Linked DNA regions of Homo sapiens. The protein of the gene in region 1 purifies or fractionates together with the protein of each later gene. This does not show direct contact. Each region holds a gene or a part of one and is shown in the gene's direction. Other genes may lie near its edges. The genes, in order: TMCC3, MIB1 and PPP3R1.

Region 1 (3,656 bases):
GGTCCCATTTTTGAGGTATCTCCGTATATATATGCAAATATTCCAAAATCTGAAAAAAATCAAAATCTGAAACACTTCTGGTCCCAAGCATTTCAGATAAGGGATACCCAATAATTTCCATCCTTCATGATTCTAAGTTTATAATTTGTGGCTTTTAGCTGACAATTAGAGAAGGATTTATGTGTGGGTCCTTAAATTATTGGATACAGGCAACAACTCACGTGCATCTTAAGATGCTGATTCAGTAGACTTCCGTTATAGTGTCATTATGCTAATTCAGAGATCTATATTTGATTTCCCTCCATAACAACTGTCAAGTACACACTTACTCATTACCCAACAAAGTTAATCTTATTTGGCACATCAATCTTGAAGTCCTTATGTAATGTTTGTTTGTTTGTTTGTTTGTTTGTTTGAGATGGAGTTTTCACTCTTTCTCCCAGGCTGGAGTGCAGTGGTGCGATCTTGGCTCACTGCAACCTCTGCCTTCTGGTTTCAAGCGATCCTCCTGCCTAAGCCTCCCGAGTAGCTGGGATTATACGCACCCACCACCACGCCCAGCTAATTTTTGTATTTTTAGTAGAGATGGGGTTTCACCATATTGGCCAGGCTGGTCTCAAACACCTGACCTCAGGTGATTCGCCCGCCTTGTCCTCCCAAAGTGCTGGGATTACAGACATGAACCACTGCACCCAGCCTATGTAATGTATTTTTTTATGTTCTGTAGTTTGCTCATTAAACTTTTTACTCTAAAGTAAAATAAAGAACTTTCCAAAGTCATCTTAAGATTAAAGTATACATTCAAAACCTTTGGCTTATATTAGGTAATTTTAAAGTAGATGTTTTGTAGGCTGGCTTTTAGGTGCTTATAACTTATTAACACAAAGTGTGTAAGCCCAAATATAAGGTCATTTTCCCCATTTTTTCCAATAAAGAGATACTTCAAAAGTTTTTTAGTCAAAGTTAATAATACATTAACTTCTAAAAAGGTAGATAAAATAGTAAAATGCCTATTACATACTATAACATTAAAAGTTTAAATTTAGTTTACTTATTGTTTTATAATTGATGTATGATTTTATGTCTGTATTAATTTAGAAATGTGGCCTTTTCAATTCTCCAATTTTATGAAACAAAAATCTTTCCATATGCATCTTTGGAATCTTTGTCACACAAGAATTATATTTTAAGTCACAGCTTTTCCAGAGTATGAACGTCAGTTCTATCGAAATAGTCTGGGATATAGCACTTTCTAGATGCACATTTTCTCCCAAGTTACAGATCCCTATTTATGTGAGTTCAGGACGGTTTCTGTTTGCATCTGTCCTGTGGTTACGTTTGTGACCCGCGTGTTACAGTCACCACCTGTATTACTGAAGAGACCTTTAAAGGCTTATTCACAGCAGTAGCAGCATTTGACATCTGAGAAGTCATGCCTGAGAATAAGCATTAAATCTGGATGAAGCTCTTTGGTCCTCTTTATAAAATGATTCTGTCAGGTGACCTATGTAAGCATCTGAAATTGGCGTTGATCAAAGTCATTCCAGTCTAATGAATGCATCTTCTCCAAACAGTACATCCTGTTTCAAAATACACAGTATAAGATTTTTTGTTTTGTTTTGTTTTGTTTGTTGTTGTTGTTTTGAGATGGAGTCTTGCTCTGTCGCCTAGGCTAGAGTGCAGTGGCGCGATCTGGGCTCACTGCAGCCTCCACCTTCTGGGTTCAAGCAATTCTCCCATCTCAGCCTCCCGAGTAGCTGGGATTATAGGCACGTGCCACCACACCCAGCTAATTTTTGTATTTTTAGTAGAGACGGGGTTTCACCATGTTGGCCAGACTGGTCTCGAACTCCTGACCCCAGGTGATCCACCTGCCTTGGCCTCCCAGAGTGTTAGGATTACAGGCGTGAGCCACTGCACCCAGCTAAGGTTTCAAATATGAGAAAAATAATCTTCAGTGAGAGGGGCAGGGCACAGGAATGAGAATCTTTGTACTTCTGTTCCTTTAGATTTGGACATTTTGAAACACTGCATGATGAACCATCTATAATTTGTAATAAGCTTAATTTTGTATTGTCAGTTAAGTTCCAAGAGCTGAAATCCATAATCAGTGCGTGTTTGCATGCTGGGAAATAGTAGAGTTGACCCCAGAGTAGAAGGTGATACTAAAAGCATGGTGCTTTCCCTGTGGGCTCTCTGGCCATGAACCCCAACAGCAGTGTCAGGGCAGAATAGGGAAAAGGCACCACAGACACCAGAGGTCCTGGCCCTCCTTTAGCAGGATCCCACAGAGCCCTGTCTCCTGCCTGGCCCTGGCAAGTGCATCAGCTGATGAGCTCTATCTTGAGGTCACTGCAGCTAGCTAAGGTGCTAGTCTGACCCGTGTGCACCTTCAGTGGCAAGGACAGAGAGTCAAGACCCCAGAGACTGGATCTTTCCAGAGCTGGGACTCAGTGTTATCCAAAAGCTCAATTCCCACAGCTAGCCTTACTCTTTTAGAAAAACAGCCCATCAGGGAATGAGAGCAAGCCAAAAGGTACTGGCGCAGGAAGATAAAAAGGACATCGTTCCACAATGTGCTGTGAAAGGTCACACTGGGAATCGGCTCCTCTCTTTTAAAGGTATGAGCGACTGGAGGACCAGCTGCATGACCTGACGGACCTGCATCAGCATGAGACAGCCAACCTGAAGCAGGAGCTGGCCAGCATTGAGGAGAAGGTGGCCTACCAGGCCTACGAGCGCTCGCGGGACATCCAGGTACCTTTCCCTTTGTGATTAGACACAGGCCTGGGCTCTTCCCGAGCCTTAATTCATTTAACAGTCTAAATGTTTATGCCTAAGTCCTAGAGGGTTTCTGGCACATGGCACAAAATGTTTTCTCTGCACAAACATTTTATCTGTACCACGTTAACCCCACTAGTTCATGTTATAGACATTACTAAGTAAAAAGACAATATTCTTTTTTTTTTCTTTTTCTTTTTCTTTTTTTTTTTTTTTTTTTTTTGAGGTGAGTCTCGCTCTGTGGCCCAGGCTGGAGTGCAGTGGGTGATCTCAGCTCACTGCGACCTCTGCCTCCCGAGTTCAAACGATTCTTCTGCCTCAGCCTCCTGAGTAGCTGGGGCTATAGGCACATGCCACCATGCCTGGCTAATTTTTTTGTATTTTTAGTAGAGACGGGGTTTCACCATGTTGGCCAGGCTGGTCTCAAACTCCTGACCTCAAGTGATCTGCCCACCTTAGCCTCCCAAAGTGCTGGGATTACAGGTGTGAGCCACCGTGCCTGGCTAAGAGACAATATTCTTTATACTTTATGCCTAAATCAATGAACAAGTATTTATTATCCACCTCAAGCCCATCACCACCAAAACTGTAAAATGTAAAAATAGGAGACAATCTCTGGCTTCAAGCAGCTCACTGCCTAGGTGGAGAGTGTGGGATAGCGCAACTGCCAAAGAACTCAAGACAGCACAAACATTGGCCAATTTACACGACACGGACTCTGTGAGCCACAGAAATTTAGCCATGTGGTGTCTAGCAAGCTGTGGACCATGGGAGCAGTCAGTCATGTAGTAGCAAAACATTTCCACGTTCAGTCCCACGTCTGTCATATCAGTTGTGTGGCCCTGAGTAAGACTTGAGCCTATTCACTCATCTGT
Region 2 (3,656 bases), on another chromosome or scaffold:
TGGTGGTTTCTTACAAAGTTTGACATATATTTATCATGTGACTCAGCTATCCCACTTCTAGGTATGTACCCAAGAGAACATAGGACACCTTTCCAAGCAAATACTTGTACTAAATGTTTGTAGCAGCTATTATTAGCCCCATACTGGAAGCGAAGCCAAATGTTCAGGTAGTGCTGGGATAAACAAATTGTGCAAATTGTGGTGCACCTATGCAATGAATACTACTTAGTGAAATGTCAATGATGGAAAAGCTCAGGAAACTTAAAGAAAAATCCCCATTGTGCACATTTATGTGAGAAATAGACATGATAAAGAATTAAGCTGACACTCGGAAGGCTAAGGCAGGAGTATTCCTTAAGCCCAGGAGTTTGAGGCTGCAGTGAGCTATGTGCCACTGCACTCCAGCCTGGGTGACAGAGTGAGACCCTATCTCAAAAAAAAAAAAAAAAAAAAAAAAAAAGAAGAAAAGAAGCTGAGATCAGGTACCTTCTGACCACACTTCAAAGAAACATAATAAAAACAAATGAGAAATTCCCATCTTGAAGAATATGACATAACATTACCAAAGTTTCAGCTCTGCATACCCCGCCAGTATCAAGAGTTGTAACCAGAGGGCATGCATGGTTCTAAGACCTAAACGAAATGATCGGTTTATCTTTTGAATCTTTAGCTCTTTTCTTGATCTCATTTTAAAAAATTTTTAAATTATGCTAGACATTTGCTAGGCATTTTCATATGTTATTTTACTTAATCTTCACATTAGCCCTGTGAAATAGGTTTTAACTGTCACCATTTTGGAGCTGAGGAAGTAGATGATGGAGTTTTGACCTAGGTCCCCTGACTCCCAAGTGCACTTATTTTGCTCCTCAGTCTCTTTCTTCATTAGGGTTCAGCTGTTCTCATACGGTTCTTCAGCTGCCCTAGGTTCTTGGGTAGGATTTTCTGCTTACTTTAATGCATAATTTTATGTACGAATTAAGCATTACCTTCTCACCTAAAGCAAACTTTCTTTTCACAGAGTGAGGAAGAGCTCAAATATGCAGCAAGGGGAAGTGAACTTATTAGGTCATTAAAGTAAATCTAAATCCAGTATGAAGACTCATTATTATAACTTTTCAGGAAATATTTAGAGTTCTAAGGAGTTGATTATCTCCATTGCTTTATAGTGGAGATTGAAAGAGATCTGTCTTTGAACTCTACTGTGCTTTGTCCTTTTTAACTGTTCTTGGGTGGAATTACCATAATAAAAATGATTTTTAAAACTTGCTGTTTTACTTCAGAAAGTTTGTTGCCCCATCCATTTTTTTCTACTTTAACAGCAACTGTTACCATATGAGAATAACATTGCAGCAGCTGAAGGAGAAAGTAGCCAGCAGTGTTCGGTGTTATTTATTCCTTATGAGTAGTTATAGTTTTCATGTTCTTTACTGTTGTCAAATTTTAACCATTTAACATTTGTTCTTCTCGTTCAGGGTAATGCAAACCTGGATATCCAGAATGTGAACCAACAAACTGCCCTACACCTTGCTGTTGAACGACAGCATACCCAGATTGTTAGGGTAAAGTATTGACATACATTTTAGCTTATAATTACATTTTAACCATACAGATTTTTAGAACTTCCTGAAAATTGAAATGATACAGTGTTACATGTCTCAAGCTGGCATAGTTAGATATAAGTAAATCTAAATATCTAAATACAATGTGATCTGCCAAGACAGATGAGACCATATGCTTGAGATTGGCTTCTATATATAGATGGTACTTTTCTAAAGCTCTTCAGTAAGTATCGTAGAAGGGATTAGGAAAATTGTTAAAGCACCATAAGCAAAGTTTTAATAAACTTATATTTACTGCTTAAGTAATCTATTGAAATATGTCAACTGTGCATTTTTATTTAGGGGGTTGTAGTTTAGCAAACACTGTTCGTATTTATTGTTATTTGAAATTCCTCTTGATATCCTCCATGGCTTTCTTCATGACCATACATTTGGAGAAAATTGACCAAAAGAGAATGGAATCAATAATAACAGTTCCTTGTTTGTTTACATAATAGAAGAATTTTGAACATTATGATTTGGTCCTGGTGGAAGTGCTTAAAATATCTCAAGTCATACATCTAAAGTTGAAAAGAGAAATAAAGTCCTAAATATCCCTCCGTTATCATCATCTTAGAGTAGATGAATTAAGCAACATATTGATTCTCATATATTTTTATTTTCTCTAATTCAATATATTTAAATAACCAGAACACGTGACTCTTTGTAAGGAGCCACAGGGTTGGAGAAGAGTAGAAGGCAAAAGCATAAAAATGATTAGCTTTAGTGGTAACTTCTTCAGTAGGTCCAGGGTGTTCTCACCATTACTTTAGATATGTTGAAGTTTCTTATGGATGTGGACACTTTGCCAAAATGAGACATCTTTCTCTTTTAGCTTTTGGTCCGTGCAGGTGCCAAGCTTGATATTCAGGATAAGGATGGGGATACTCCTTTGCATGAAGCTCTAAGGCATCACACTTTGTCTCAGCTACGTCAGCTCCAAGATATGCAAGATGTGGGGAAGGTGGATGCTGCCTGGGAGCCATCCAAAAACACGGTGAGTAAAGATCATCTTTCATTCAGTACCAGTGGAAGAATCTTTTCATGCAAGATCTTATATTTACTGGTAATCTAACCTGTATTGGATAAAATATTTTATCAGAGCTATGTACTTAGAAACTTAGTTTATGAACTTAGTACTAGTCAGTACTAACTTATTGCTCCACATTTTTACCAAAAGTTGTTCAGTTCTGTTGTTGTTGTTGTTGTTATGTGGAGTCCCACTCTGTCACCCAGGCTGGAGTGCTTGGCTCACTGCAACCACCTGGGTTTAAGCCATTCTCTTGCCTCAACCTCCCAAGTAGCTGGGATTATAGGCGCCTGCACCACACCTAGCTAATTTTTGTATTTTTAGTAGAGACGGAGTTTCACCATGTTGGTCAGGCTGGTCTCGAACTCCTGACCTCAGGTGATCCACCCGCCTCGGTCTCCCACAGTGCTGGGATTACAGGCCTGAGCCACTGCGCCCAGCCATTCAGTTCTTTTTTAACATCAGCCATTCAAATAGATACGTAGTGGTATCTTATTGTGGTTTAATTTGCATTTTCCTAATGACTATTGATATTGAGCATCTTTTCATTTGTCTGTCACCATATGTATTTTATGAAGTGTCTGCTCAAATCTTTTGTTCATTATTTTGTTAGGCTGTTTGTTTTCTTACTACTGAGTTTTGAGAGTTCTTTATGTAATCGGAATACAAGTTCTTTATATGTGAATGCACATATTTTCTCCCAGTTGGTAGGAGATTTGTCTTTTCATTCTTTTTTTTTTTTGAGATGGAGTCTCGCTCTGTCGCCCAGGCTGGAGTGCAGTGGCACAATCTTGGCTCACTGCAACCTCCGCCTCCTGGGTTCAAGTAATTCTCCTGCCTCAGCCTCCCAAGTAGCTGGGACTACAGGTGCATGCCACCACGCCCAGCTAATTTTTTGTATTGTTTTTAGTGGAGACGGGGTTTCACCTTAGCCAGGGTGGTCTTGATCTCCTGACCTCGTGATCTGCCTGCCTCAGCCTCCCAAAGTGCTGGGATTACAGGCATGAGCCACCACACCCAGCCCTTTT
Region 3 (3,656 bases), on another chromosome or scaffold:
TAACTATATTTACCATTTGTTCTTGAAAGCTGACTTTCGTAGATCTTGGCTTTAAAATTTTTTCCTGGCTTTGCTTTCCAAGCTGGCCATTTAAAAATATTCTGGATATTTAGGTATGGATTCCTCTAGTTGCTCAGCCTCGACTAGATTGTAAATACTGAGTATTTAGTCCATCTTACTCATCATCGTAATCGTAGCTGAAAGGAGGGGAGGGAGATGAGGAAATAAATGAGTGGTTGGAGAAAAGATAACTGCCCCCATACATGCTGCACTGGCTTCTTAGCTCAAGATCAGTTTTAGCTACATGGGGTATGTGGGAATGATGATGAATGGAAAGATTAGATAGAGCTTGTTCCCTCCTAGTCATATTAAAGGGGCTTTTTAAGAAGTCATTTATTGTCAAGGTAAAATGTGATCACTGGCACATTGCTTTGCCTTTGAGGAAAGTTTTGACTACTCATCCAGAGCAGATATCAACTACTTTATAATGTTTCACAAGATATTAAAACAAGTAAATAAAATTTAACTACTCCTTCTAAGGGCCTTTGCCAGGGAGTGAGATAATGATACAACTATAAGATAAATCATTAGTAACCCCTTTCTTTTATCAGAGAAAAATTGATAGGTGTCTCATAAATGGAGAATTCAGGCAAGGCCATTCCAGCAGGAGGTTTATAAGGAAATGGAGGTATAAAATCTATACTTTAGCAGAGATGTGCCAAGAGCATTGTAGCCAAAGAAAAGGAAATGGGGAAAGAGATAAGATGGAAATTTAAATTTGAGGCTAAGTATTGCCGAGGACTTTAGACTTTTTGTATTAGAAAGCCACTAGAAAATGTAAAGCACAGGAGCTAGCCGTTTGGCTGAATTTGCCTTTTAGAAAGATTACTGTTGGCAATGTAAAGAAGATGGATTGAACCACATATATTTATTTGATTTATGATTATGATTTTCAAGTATTCTTAATATTTTTTATTCATTTATTAAGACTGAAATGCTATCTTCTTGATTGGAGGAGTTTTCTGAGTAGCTAAAACAATCCTTTAAGTGCCTAAATTTCAGTTTCTTGATAAACAACTTTCTAAACTATAATTAATGTCCCCACTTCAATAAATTGACTAATAAATAGTTTGCATAAATATTATCATACTACATTTCTGCTTTTCCTCTTCCCATTAATCATACAGCCTAGAAGAAATGATCCTGATTTGTCCACTTAAAGTTTGTGGAGACATTATCTTTTCTTATCTACTCACAATAGATCACCTTTGTGATCTGTTATGTTTAAATTCCCTGTCACCTTTCCTAGTCTATGGTTGTAAACTAAGGCAAAACTCAAGATTGGAAGAAGAAAATAATTAACTAATCCTTGGTATATGTGTAAAAAATTAAGGCAAGCGTGGAGAGGGTAGCTCTTCAGCAAAATCTATGAACTTTGAGACACTGTTCTGAATGGTTTGCTGATTGGTACCTGGTTAGCTAGTAGTTTTAAATACTGATGGAATTTTAATCAATAAGTTTTACATTTGAAATACTTATTAATACTTAAAACATTATTAAAACCATAATTAAGCACCTGTTATATGTGATGCTCAGAGCACCAATGAAAAAGTCATGGACTCTGCCCTGAGGTGGAGTAGACATATAAATAAATAAGCGAAAAGCATTTGTAGGACTTTCATTATATTTTTTCTCTTTCAAGAGTAAGGGTGTGTCATTTTATAGATAGAAAATGGGGAAATAAGGTTTATTTGAACAGTTTGCAGTTATGTCACATATTCCATTAAAGAAGGAATACTCTTTAATAGAGGGATAAAATGCTTGTGTAGTTGATGTGCTTATGAAGTGCTTATATGATCTTTTTTATCAGATTATTTATATACATTAATGTGCTACATAATAATTTTTGGTCAGTGGCTGACCACATATACACAGTGGTTCCGTAAGATTATAATGGAGCTGAAAATACATGTACAGTCATGTGTCACTTAACAACGAGTTGCATTGAGTAATGCATCATTAGTGTAGCCTAAGTGTACAGAGTTTATAAAGTCTACAGTAATATCCTAGGCCCTTACATTAACTCACCAGTCACTCACTGGCTCACCCAGAGCAGCTTCTGTCCCACAAGCTCCTTTCATGGTAAATGCCCTATACAGGTGTACCATTTAAGTAAAATTTTCATACTATACTTTTACTGTACCTTTTGAATGTTTAGATATGTTCAGATACACAGATATTTAGCATTGTGTTACAATTGCCTACAGTATTCAGTACAGTAAGATGCTGTACAGATTTTGTAGCCTAGGAGCAATAGGCTGGACCATATAGCCTGGGTGTGTAGTAGGCTGTCCCACATAGGTTTGTGTAAGTACACTCTGATGTTCATACAATGATGAAATCTAATGATGTGTTTCTCAGTGTAACCCCATCGTTAAGTGACTCATGACTGACTGTATGTGTATTTTGGTGTTTGCAGCAGTATTTACATAAATTTTTCATCACAGCATTTCTGATACATGTGTTCTAGAAAACCTCAGATGCCATGAAATCACATCTGGGAAAAATATGGATAGAGTAGACCATTCAAATTATGCAGCTTTGTTTGTAACAGAGTATTAACATAAACAGTAATGATCTTAAAAATGCAAGTACAAATTAACTGTACAAATGAAACACCATAGCCCATCACTTATGAGCCTTAAACGGGGACTTGTGCTTCTTTTAAGGTATGGTGCAGGTTGAAGTTATTTGCTTTAGTAGAAACTACTTTTCTAAAATTCAGTAGTGAGCCAATGTATGCCTACCTTTATTAATAGTTGTGGGGGTGAGGGGGAGCATAAAAACAAAAGAAATTGTCTTCACAACTTCATCTGTGTCCTTAGTTTTCACCAGACAACATAACAATTTTAGAAAGACTTGAGGTTCTTAAAGCCCCTAAACTTGTTTTCTCTAAAGGAAAGCACCTCTTCACTATTGTTTTCTTAAGGTCTTCATATATTGAGGGGTTTTTTTTGTTTGTTTTTTGAGACGGAGTTTCCCTTTTGTCGCCCAGGCTAGAGTTCAATGGCGCGATCTCAGCTCACTGCAACCTCCGCCTCCCAGGTTCAGGCGCTTCTCCTGCCTCAGCCTCCCAAGTACCTGGGATTACAGGCGCCCTGCCATCACTCCCGGCTAATTTTTGTATTTTTAGTGGAGACGAGGTTTCACCACGTTGGCCAGGCTGGTCTGAAACTCCTGACCTCAGGTGATCCACCCGCCTTGGCCTCCTGAAGTGCTAGGATTACAGGCGTGAGCCACTGCACCCGGCCTTTTTTTTTTTTTTTTTTTTTTTTTTTAAGAGAAACTTGCCCTGATCCTTTACTGTGAAAAATCCCTGTGAACCAGTGAAATTTCCATGATTACTGACAATACTACTCTCCTTCCTCTTTACGAATTACGTGTGAACTAATTCATATTAGAACACCATCTTGTAGCTGTAGTTTTTACTTTGATAGTATATAGTTCTATTTTAATATAATTTATATTTAAAATATATGCTTTAATTTTTAAGTTCTTACAGTGAGGATGCCATATATTTAAGCTGTCAAAACAGCTTGTATTTGTACTCTTTTCTAGTGTTGTGGGCCATAATACATATATACTCATGGGCAGTA

The links.
Region 2: the proteins of TMCC3 (region 1) and MIB1 purify together in Homo sapiens (affinity purification with mass spectrometry; one large-scale study listed by BioGRID and IntAct). This does not show direct contact.
Region 3: the proteins of TMCC3 (region 1) and PPP3R1 purify together in Homo sapiens (affinity purification with mass spectrometry; one large-scale study listed by BioGRID and IntAct). This does not show direct contact.

What each region holds. Positions count from the first base shown.
Region 1 is NC_000012.12:94,577,495-94,581,150, reverse strand, and holds part of TMCC3 (transmembrane and coiled-coil domain protein 3), read left to right. Parts: intron 1-2,621; coding exon 2,622-2,757; intron 2,758-3,656.
Region 2 is NC_000018.10:21,841,659-21,845,314, forward strand, and holds part of MIB1 (E3 ubiquitin-protein ligase MIB1), read left to right. Parts: intron 1-1,472; coding exon 1,473-1,559; intron 1,560-2,433; coding exon 2,434-2,595; intron 2,596-3,656. UniProt on the Homo sapiens protein: E3 ubiquitin-protein ligase that mediates ubiquitination of Delta receptors, which act as ligands of Notch proteins.
Region 3 is NC_000002.12:68,189,938-68,193,593, reverse strand, and holds part of PPP3R1 (calcineurin subunit B type 1), read left to right. Parts: intron 1-3,656. UniProt on the Homo sapiens protein: Regulatory subunit of calcineurin, a calcium-dependent, calmodulin stimulated protein phosphatase. Confers calcium sensitivity.